Homo sapiens: one gene and its partners. The protein of the gene in region 3 interacts with the protein of the main gene of each other region in a pairwise test. Each region holds a gene or a part of one and is shown on either strand. Other genes may lie near its edges.

Evidence for each region.
Region 1: the proteins of SGTA (region 3) and MYOC interact in binary tests that used the Homo sapiens proteins (3 or more experiments, as listed by UniProt).
Region 2: the proteins of SGTA (region 3) and FSTL1 interact in binary tests that used the Homo sapiens proteins (3 or more experiments, as listed by UniProt).

The regions. Positions count from the first base shown.
Region 1 is NC_000001.11:171,650,520-171,654,268, forward strand, and holds the start of MYOC (myocilin precursor), read right to left. Parts: upstream 2,170-3,749; 5' UTR 2,093-2,169; coding exon 1,489-2,092; intron 1-1,488. UniProt on the Homo sapiens protein: Secreted glycoprotein regulating the activation of different signaling pathways in adjacent cells to control different processes including cell adhesion, cell-matrix adhesion, cytoskeleton organization and cell migration.
Region 2 is NC_000003.12:120,402,398-120,406,046, forward strand, and holds part of FSTL1 (follistatin-related protein 1 precursor), read right to left. Parts: intron 2,575-3,649; coding exon 2,456-2,574; intron 958-2,455; coding exon 845-957; intron 522-844; coding exon 411-521; intron 1-410.
Region 3 is NC_000019.10:2,762,694-2,766,342, reverse strand, and holds part of SGTA (small glutamine-rich tetratricopeptide repeat-containing protein alpha), read left to right. Parts: intron 1-1,057; coding exon 1,058-1,157; intron 1,158-2,585; coding exon 2,586-2,690; intron 2,691-3,649. UniProt on the Homo sapiens protein: Co-chaperone that binds misfolded and hydrophobic patches-containing client proteins in the cytosol. Mediates their targeting to the endoplasmic reticulum but also regulates their sorting to the proteasome when targeting fails.

The DNA of each region.
Region 1 (3,749 bases), on a different chromosome or scaffold from region 3:
CACAGCAGGAATTTTCTTTGTTATGTTATGGACAAGAAATGAAGATGCAGAGGGTTCAATAACTTGCCCAAGGTCATCCCCAGGCTCTGGCTCTTAGGTTTTCTAACCCCATAGCTATGAAGAGCTTGCCTTTCACGTAGAAGGCTCTTTTTAGGAAATATTTTCTCATAATTTTAAAGCTTTTCAAGCCTATAGAAAAACTGAAAGAATAGTACAATAAGCTCCCCATATACTTAGATTCACCAGTTTGTAATTCACCAGTTATTAATATTTTGCCACAGTTGTTTTACCTTTCTTTCTCTCATTATCTATATATTTGCAGTCTTTCTTCAACCATTTGAGAGCAAATTGCAGACATCCTGACGCCTCACCCTGGGTACTTAAGCATGTATCTCCATAGAACAAAGATTTTATCCTTCGCAACCACAGTATCATTATCTCACCAAGAAACTGAACATTAATACAGTAACATAATAATGAGCAGTCAAATTGCCTCAGTTATCCCAAACCTGTTCCTCATAGCCTTTTTCCCCCTTGGATGAAGACACCAATCAAGACTCATGCACTACATTTGGTTAACACATTTCTTTAGTCTCTTTAATATAGAACAAGCCCTTCCCCACCCCTTTTTTCTTTCTTCCTTGGCACTGACATCTTTGACCAGTCCAAACTAATTGTCCAACAACTGGATTTGCTTGCTTATTTCCTCATGATTAGAACACTTCCTCAACAGGGAATATTTGGGAGCCCACTTTCACAAAAAGTGACACAAATACCATCTTCCCAGCTAATAAGAAGACCTCCCCCAACACCTCACCCCCGCACCCCCCCCACACACACACAGACTCACCTTTAGGCAAGAAGGGACCAGGATGAACAGAAGAGCCTCTCAGAAAAAGCCATCTCAAGAATTTGTCTGATGACTTAAAAGCAGAGGTTCTCAGATTGGACTGAGTAAGAAAACTTTCAGAACAACATATTAAGAAAACTGACAGAGAGGTGCCATCTCTTTATTTTGCCAGGGAAGAACATTTAAAAATAAACAAAAACTTACCACTTATTATCATTTCCCAAATCTATTGTAATTTCATAAATAAAGGTCATTTTAACATCAAAAGGTACAAATAACAATCTGAGCAAAGGTTCAAAAAAGGATAGTTTTTCAAAAGGGACAATTGACAACTTTCTACTGCTCATATGCAGACACATCTCACCCGGTCCTTTTATTTCTCCTTTTGCTATGGACTGTGAAAACTGACATGGAGGGGCACAAGAACTCTGAACCACTAATCTAAATGAAGCTCTCAGGAGCTAAATTACTAGTAATACTTGAAGGTGATCGCTGTGCTTTCCTTAATTCATCTGTCTTGTGCTAGCTGTGCAGTCTCTAGGAGAAAGGGCAGGCAGGGAGGCCTGGAGCGCCTGTAGCAGGTCACTACGAGCCATATCACCTGCTGAACTCAGAGTCCCCCCACTCTGCATTCTTACCTTCTCTGGAGCCTGGTGGCACAGCCCGAGCAGTGTCTCGGGTCTGGGGACACTGGCCCCTTCTCAGCCTTGCTACCTCCTGGCTGCTGCTTTCCAACCTCCTGGCCAGATTCTCATTTTCTTGCCTTAGTCGCTTCTTCTCTTCCTCCAGAACTGACTTGTCTCGGAGGAGGTTGCTGTAGGCAGTCTCCAACTCTCTGGTTTGGGTTTCCAGCTGGTCCCGCTCCCGCCTCAGGGTGCCCAGCTCCCTCTGCAGCCCCTCCTGGGTCTCCTGGGGCCTGGCAGCCTGGTCCAAGGTCAATTGGTGGAGGAGGCTCTCCAGGGAGCTGAGTCGAGCTTTGGTGGCCTCCAGGTCTAAGCGTTGGGTGCTGCTGTCTCTCTGTAAGTTATGGATGACTGACATGGCCTGGCTCTGCTCTGGGCAGCTGGATTCATTGGGACTGGCCACACTGAAGGTATACTGGCATCGGCCACTCTGGTCATTGGCCTTCCTGAGCTGAGCTGTCCTGGCCCCCACATCCCACACCAGGCAGGCCAGAAGCAGCAGCTGGACAGCTGGCATCTCAGGCCCAAAGCTGCAGCAACGTGCACAGAAGAACCTCATTGCAGAGGCTTGGTGAGGCTTCCTCTGGAAAGCTCTGCTGTGCTGAGAGGTGCCTGGATGGGTGGCCTTGCTGGCTCATGCCCGAGCTCCAGAGAGGTTTATATATACTGGGGAGCCAGCCCTTCATGGGGGAAGACAGAGGTGGCCACGTGAGGCTGGGTGGGGCTGTGCACAGGGGGGTTGCCTTCACGCTGCCAGCAAGATTCTTAGAAAATAACCTTCCAGAAGTCTGTTTGGAGTTTCTTTTTAAAAAGAACATCCCAATTTATGCACCCATACCCCAATAATAGTTCCTATATCTCCACCTGGTTTTACACACACACACACACACACACACACGTACACACACTTACACCAGGACTACTGGTGTGCTGATTTCAACAAGGATATATTTCTAGTTTATATTTCCATTCACTCTGCAAACTCATTGAGAACCTGCACTGTGCCAGGCACTATGCTAGGAACTGGAGATCCAAACAAGTCCTTTAAGACGTAGCAGGGACAGAGAAAAATAACAGCCAGCCAGAACACAAGGACAGCACCCTACCAGGCTCCAGGGAGAGCATTCCTATAGAAGCGGCAGATTTCCCCCCTCACCCCTAGCTTTAAAACAACTGTGTATCTTTGGGAGAACTTTCTAATTTCAGTCTTGCATCTCAGGCACCAATGTCAATGTTAGCCTCTAAATCAGTTCTTACTCTGTGTGTGTGCATGCCAAGAACCTCATTGGTGAAATCTGGGGAACTCTTCTCAGAAAGATGTTTTCAAATATATAAAATATAGATTACAAAGGAAACAAATGATAATGAAATATGATTATCAAAATATCAAAATTTTAAACATGTTTTATTAATATGTTAAAAACAAGATCCAGCAGGAGGTCTAATTTCAAAGTAGTTTTGAGTATAAATATTTCACTTACAACGTATCTGCAACAACTGTAATATAGTATAAAATGTCTGTGATTTCTATTGGTAATGACAAAATCACAGGTACTGTTATTACCACTTTGAGTTTATGGCTCTATTCGCAATGGAATAAAATGTTAAATTTAGTTAGAAGGTGGTAAAAACAAAAATGTAATTTTTTCCTCATTCAAATTCACAGGCTTTCTGGACTGTAGGTTAATAATCCCTGCTTTACATTAATAAACCCAAAGAGAAAAAACAAAAAGCAAATGGCAATAGCCAATAAATATACCAAAACTGTCAGAAGTAACTTTAAGCCACTTGAAATAATGATTGCCTTTGAGCAACTTTATGTTGTTAATACCAACAACAGTGTCAATACTTGTGAAGTAAATATTTCCAAACTGCCCTGGCAGACTCACCTCCAGAGTGGAGAAACACAGTTTGCTCTAAAGATTCTATTCTTATTTGATTGGTTCTGCAGTTAAGCCTGAACTTGAGACATTTACAAATGGGTGTTTGTTTACAGCTGACCAAAGGGTACTAGTCTCATTTTCTGAATCAGATAGTAAACATCGCTGAAATGATTTTTCAAAAAACCAATCATATAGTCAGCAAGACCTAGGCTTGAATCTGTTTGGCTTTACTCTTAGGAATGTTTTCTTCCTGTTAAAAGAAACGGGATTGCCCTTGTGCTGCTAACTCCACAGAGAAAAAGAGTTCCTAATAAGGAGAAACTAAGTAATCTT
Region 2 (3,649 bases), on a different chromosome or scaffold from region 3:
TACTATTCCATTATTATTTTTGATTATTATTAAATAATAATTATTGTTTTTATTTTAATGTTTTAATTATTAAATAATTACTATTTTTAATTATTATTCCATTATTACTACTTTCACTGTTACTATTTCCATAATGTTACTATTCCATTATCATTTACTTTTGCCCAGGGTCTTGGTCCTCTCTTATTCCAAGCCTCTGGAGTGATTTTCAAACTGAATGCCTATGGGATAAATGTTCTGCCCTCAAAGCTCCCCACTTGGGGCTCCAACCTTACAGGTGTGGGTCTGCCTGGGTTCCTTGCTCCCAGCCACCGCCCTCTTCTCCATCATCCCCACCCCAACTTCTCTCATGCTGATTTCATGAAGCTCTCTCCTTGCTGTTTTTTCTTTCTGCTTGAAGCACAGCTCACCGTCACAGGTCATGGCTGTACAGACCCAATTTCCACAGGCACAGACACAGCGGTTACAGTCCACCTCGGTCTCAGCTCCATCTGCATACGTTTCATCCTCCAGGGCACACTCTGTTGGGCCAGAAATACGGGGCAACAGTTTAGCTGTGAGGGTGGAACAGGGCATCTTTGCTACAGTCTGTGCACCTTACCCTTTTTTCCCAGACAAGACCTGCCTGTCCCTCAGAAGCACTATATCTGAGCAAACACTACCATCAACCTAAAGAATGTGGGGCCCTAACTTCACCATGGGGAGAATGGGCTGGGGCCCAGTTTAGAATCATGGAAGGGGATTTTCTCAGCTAGCTCTGGAGAGTTCCACCAATCCTCTCTATCTTGGCTCCTACAAAATGCCTCCATTCACTACAGCTCTCTATTTCTTAGGTTAGGCATACTCTTCTCAGGAGGGTTGAAAGATGGGTTGAGGCACTTGAGAAACTCTTGGAAGCTGAGTTTCCAATCAGCATTTTCATCAGACAGTTCAATGAGAGCATCAACACAGAGTCCCCTGAAACAAAACACAGGAGAAATGTGTTAGCAAGACCTCAGCTTCGCTCAGAAGAAAGGAAGTAAGCATCAGGACCACATACACCCAGGGCCTCCACAGGAGGCCAAGAAGATGACTGCTAACTAAAACAGCCTCTCTCTACACTGACCCAACACAACTATTATCCATCCTGACCAATGCAGGCATCTAACCTTTAGTTTGTTATATGAATGTCAGATCACCCAGGCTGTCCAAATGTTCCCCCCCTTAAGATGACTAAAGTTTCGTGAATGGTTTTGTCTAATGTTTTCACTGCCTGCATACCTTCCACTAGCAATTGCTTTTCCCCATGGTATATACACGTCAAGTCAACCAAACTAGGAAAATCAAAACAGAAGAGATATGACAGATGACATGAAAGGAATATAGGATTTGAAAGAATATGAAGTTCAAGCAAGAATCACCATTATCATCCTTCTAGAAAGAGATTTTCAGAAAAGCTTTTAGAACTCAGCTCCATCAGCTTGCAGTGAGCCGAGATCCCGCCACTGCACTCCAGCCTGGGCGACAGAGCGAGACTCCGTCTCAAAAAAAAAAAAAAAAAAAAAAAACAAAAACAAAACAAAACAAAAACAAAAACAAAAAAAAACAAAAAACAAAACAAACAAAAAAAAACTCAGCTCCATCACTTCTTTCTTGGGCTGTATTTGAGCCCTGGCTCAATCACTTACTACTCAAATGGACTTGAGTTAGTTATTCAACTTTTCTGAGCCTGTCTTCCCATCCGTAAAAGGAGGACAAGAAGCCCTCCTTCACTGGGATATCATGAGGCTCAAACGTTGAAATTATAAAACATATAATTTCAGATTATCAAAATATGAAGGATTTACAGAACCTATACTTTAAGGTCATAGACTATTATTAAAGAAGAATCCTTCTAGAAACTGTGCAATGCACTTCTTTTGAAAAAAAGACATGCTTTTCCTATTTTTAATTCTTACCGATGTGCTGAAACCACATCAAAAGTTTCTTAGCGATTAGTTTTTATTAATATTGATTCTGGAATAATGCCATAAAAGTAGACGGGCATATATCTGTAACAGTTAGGGCAATTGACATGAAATAGCACTAATTATCTAAAAATCAGAACAAAGCTATTTTAGACCTATAGTTAAATAATACATTACTGTAATTCCTTCAGAAAATTAATCAGTAAAACATCACCCACAACATTCAGAAATAACTTGCTCTGACGTGCCCTTGGCAATTTATTTTAAAATTATATTCTTCTAGTCCTTGCAAGTTCTGACCAAAAACAATAACTATTTGATTAGATATCAGTGGTACTCAATATATTAATTCATACTTTCATAGAATAGAACAGGACAGAATTCCCATTTTGCTTTTTACGTGACATTCTCTCACTGGTGGCTCTTTTGCAGGTGGGAAAGGGTTTAAGTCCCCTCTCTCAGTTAGTCTTCCCTTGTGGATCATTCTCTGACCTCTCGGTTCCTCTCACCTAAGCAACTTGTTGTTCTCCTGGTCTGGATACGTTGTAATATTGATGGCAGTTTCATTCTGTTCCACAAACTTCAGGAATTCACTGGAGTCCAGGCGAGAATCACCATTATCAAAGTTCTAGAAAGGGCATGACAAGATCGTTCAGGGATGTTTTGCAGAACCCCTGTTCCATCATTACTCCACTCAGCTGACCTGCCTCTGATTCATCTTGTTCTTGATACATTCCAACCCTGCCCTGACCTCAGAGGGCCTTGGCAACAAATGCTCTAATCCCTGGGACATGCAGAGAAGGTACCTGTGCCCACAATGAGAGAGGAAAAGTGCCTGGGCAGAGGAGGCAACCTGAACTGAGGCCTCTGGGGTCCCTAAGCATGCTGTGTGGCCCCATCTCTGACACTGCCCTGTAGACACTTTTGACTATACCTTTGGGTTCAGACCAACCTGCACATCATGTTCTCAAGCCCTGATGAACATGTAACAAGAGTTTAAAGTTGCACGCTGTGAATCAGAATCTCTGTAGCAGGTCCCAGAATATGTTTCTAATGAGCTGCTCAGGAACAGCAGCAATGCAGATGACCCTCTGAGCTCACTTTGGAATTATAGGATTCCAAATCTTGTTGCTTGATTCCAGCCTCCTTGTCCTGTTCTCAGTGCTTAACTTTCACTTTGGTGCCCGTAACTGATCACATCAGTGAGAACTCAGGCAAAGGCCTCAAAGCAATAAGCTACAGACAGGGGTCATCATGCAAAGTTCCCGCTCCTCTGCCCTGTGGGCCCCACTGCAGATGTGTGCACAGGTCCTCAGATCATCCAGCTCAGGCTGCCCTCATGACCCAGCTGGCATCCCACAAGCACAAAGTGAGGAGTGCAGTAAGCTCACACACTGTTCTCTATGGCAAGATGCTAAACTGAGACCTCAGCCATCTGGGACCATTCAAGACACCCAGGCACTAGCTGCAGGAGGAGGGTGTCAAATCAAGACTGATCAAATTCCAAGTTGCATATGGCTGCTCTCCTAACAAATTTCAATAACATTTTCCCCCTTCCTCCCAAATCCTTTCCCTAGGCTCCCTCATGCTGCTGCCCTGGGAAAGGATCAGCTTCCCCATGTTACTTTCAAGATGGCTCCCCAGATGGTGCAAGGGATTCTGGAAGAAACATCTATCCAAATTTCTAGATAGAAGGGGAAGAT
Region 3 (3,649 bases):
ATGTGGATGGGTGAGGCTCTGACCCAGGCCCCAGCGCAGATGCACCGTGAAGACATCACACTCAGGGAGAGAGGCCAGACACAAAAGGACGCACAGCATGTGATCCCATTTCTTTTTTTTCTTTTTTGAGATGGAGTCTCGCTCTGTCGCCCAGGCTGGAGTGCAGTGGCGTGATCTCGGCTCACTGCAACCTCTGACTCCCTGGTTCAAGCAATTCTCCTGCCTCAGCCTTCTGAGTAGCTGGGACTACAGAAGCCTACCACCACGCCCGGCTAATTTTTGTATTTCTAGTAGAGACAGGTTTCACTGTGTTGGCCAGGATGGTCTTGGTCTCCTGATCTTGCGATCCGCCTGCGTCGGCCTCCCAAAGTGCTGGGATTATAAGCATGAGCCACCGCGCCCGGGCTTATATTTTTAAAGCGTAAGCTTTGTGGCATGTAAATTATATCTCAATAAAACTGTTTAGGGAAACACACGCTGATACCCATCTTCCCCCCACGCCCTCCTGAATTGGGATCTCGGGGGCGGGAGTGGGTTTCTGTCTTCAGGGCTCTCAGTTCTAGGATAGCAGCTGGGGTTTTTACCGTCCTACCAGCTGGGACCCATGCCTCAGATAGAAGCCCCATTGCCTATGAAATGAGAAGGTATCACATGAGTATTCCAAAATACAGGCCTCCACTTGGGCTCTTTCCAAAAGCAATAGCGAAAGGGACAGTTTCCGTCCCCGGGCCGGTGAGCTGTATTAACTGTTCTGCTCCCGGGGTCGCCATCCAGGCAGTGACAGCCACCGTCGCCAGGCACAGGCCAGGCCAGGCCCTGCCGCCCCCACCTCCATCCCCCTTAGTGGATGTAGATATGATTGTTTGCGACTAGCGAACCCCCTATAGATGCAGATGCCTCCTGAGCCGGCATCTGTGTTGAGTCCTGGCTGCCCAGAAGAGCCAAGTGTGACGCCCCCTCGGGTCTGTGTGGACACCAGGCCGGTGTTTTCCTCTCTCCCTGACACCCCCTCCGGTCTGTGTGGACACCGGGCCGGTGTTTTCCTCTCTCCCTGTAGGAAACGAGCAGATGAAAGTGGAAAACTTTGAAGCTGCCGTGCATTTCTACGGAAAAGCCATCGAGCTCAACCCAGCCAACGCCGTCTATTTCTGCAACAGGTACCAGCTCAGGGCCTGCCCAGGGCAGGGGCGGCCGGGTGCGGGGGCGTCCTCCGGGATGCTTAGCAGGGACCTGAGATGGGAGAGGCCTCTGCGCTGTAGATGAGGGATCCATTCACCGGTGGTCTCAGACCAGGAGCGAGCATCAGGTGACCAGCAACGGGGTCGGGGAGAGTCGATGCTGATTTAAAATCAGGTAGCACGCCCAGCACTCTGGGAGGCCATGGGGGAAAGATCACTTGAGGCTAGGAGTTCGGGACTAGCCTGGGCAACATATCAAGACCCCCGTCTCTACAGAAAATGTAAAAATTAGTCTGGGGGCCAGGCGCGGTGGCTCACGTCTGTAATTCCAGCACTTTGGGAGGCTGAGGCGGGGGGGATCACTTGAGGTTGAGAGTTCAAGACCAGCCTGGCTAACATGGTGAAACCCCGTCTTTACTAAAAATACAAAATTAGCCGGGTGTAGTGGTGGGCACCACCAGTTACTCAAGAGGCTGAGGTATGAGGATGGTTTGAACCTGGGAGGCAGAGGTTGCAGTGAGCCAAGATTGCGCCACTGCCCTCCATCTTGGGTGACAGGGAGACTCTGTCTCAAAAAAACCCCGAAAAAAACCACAAAAATTAGCTGGATGTGGTGGTGGGTGCCTGTAGTCCCAGCTACCTGGGAGGCTGAGGCAGGAAAATCACTTGAACCCGGGAGGCAGAGGTTGCAGTGAGCTGAGATCGTGTCACTGCACTCCAGCCTGGGCAGCAGAGCAAAACCCTGTTTCAAAAATAATAAATACATAAATACATACATAGAAAATCAGGTATCATGGCATTCCACGTGGATGTCAAGCCAAGAAAATAATCCAGTATGTGGAGGGTTGTGTTTTTTGAATGTGTGGTCTTGGATCTGCTTCAGGCTTACAGGACAGTTGCAGAGGCAGTGCAGGGTTCCTGGCCGCCTGTCATGGGGTAGTTTAGTCTCCACTCACTCTTCTCTGTACTTTGAAAAAATTGTAAAGAGAAACACTAAACACGAAAATGGTGAAGACGATTCAGACGCTGTAAGCCAAGAGCTTTGAGCTTTGACATTGGTCTGAGTTCTTTTTTTACTGATATGTAAATAATTTGTGAATGAAACTTGGGTATAAGTTCCCTACCCTCATTGCTCTTGTACAGCCATGGATCGGAACATTTTTTGCAAATAAAATTCAGAGTCGCAGTCCTGAGTGGCTGCTGGTGCTTTGAGCCCACATTTGTCTAAGAGCATCTCAGTGGCCACACCTCTCAGCTTTCCCCATCAGCCCCATTTTACAGATGGGGAAAACTGAGGCCGTTCCTCCAGGAAGTTGGAGAGGAACGCAGCTCTCAGGCTCCCCTCAAGGGCTGCCCGCTGGGCTCAGAGCCGCCAGTGAGGGACCTGCCCTGCCTTTTCTTCCCCAGAGCCGCAGCCTACAGCAAACTCGGCAACTACGCAGGCGCGGTGCAGGACTGTGAGCGGGCCATCTGCATTGACCCGGCCTACAGCAAGGCCTACGGCAGGATGGGGTGAGTGCCTGTCCACGGCCGCGCCTTTCCAGTCTCTCGGGACCCCTCCTCTCCTGCTCCTGCTTCCTCTCTTGTGTGGCTTTTTTCCCACCCACAACGAATTCTCCCACCCCGGTTCAGTTCAACTCTGACACTAGCTGTTCGGAGCCAACGTAGTCCCTACAGGTCACAGGCTCAGCCCCACAGACGCCCCGCATCAGGTGCCACCCGGAGATCCCTGGGCCCCTTGCTTCTCCCTGACTGGCTGTCACCTGGGGTTCCCATGGCTCCTACTCAGGCTCCATTGTTTGCTGGGGCGGCTCACAGAGCTCAGGGAAGCACCTGGTTTATGATGAAGGACACAGGACAGGTCCGAGAGTGAGGCCAGGAGGGTCCCCGGGGCAGGAGCCTGCGCCCCGTGCAGCCGGTGCCGCCCTCCCAGCATAAGCGTGCATTCGCCTGCTTCTCTGAATGCCCTTGCTCAGAGTTTGTGGGATTGGGTCTCCCCAGAGGCTGGGGAGGGGCCCTGTTCAACTGCCCAGTCTCCCCAGGACCCGCCTCCTCCTGGGCTCTGTAGGGGCCCTGAGTCACCTCACGAGTGAAGACTCACTCAGGTGGGGGTCAGGGGCTGCTTGTGGATGACGGGAGACATGTCTGTCGCTCAGAGGTTCCGAGGGTCCTTGGTGCCCTGTGCCGGGAAGCGGGGCCAAGACAACATCCACGCATTTCCTGTGACCCTGAGCTGGCCCGCTCCCTCCTCTCAGCCCGCTCTGGGCTTTGAGGCCCTGTGTGTGGCCCCATGGGGACTCCAGTTCTTGTGTGGCAGGGGTGTTCTCATGTCTGTCTCCCTCAGTCCTGCCCCTGGGCCCCTCGAAAGCCAGGTTTGTCTCCACTGAGCTGACAGCGGGCAGGGGGTGGCACCATCCGAGGTGGTTTGGGGGTTGCCAGGACCGCCGGGGACGAGGGCTTTGGCGGGGCCT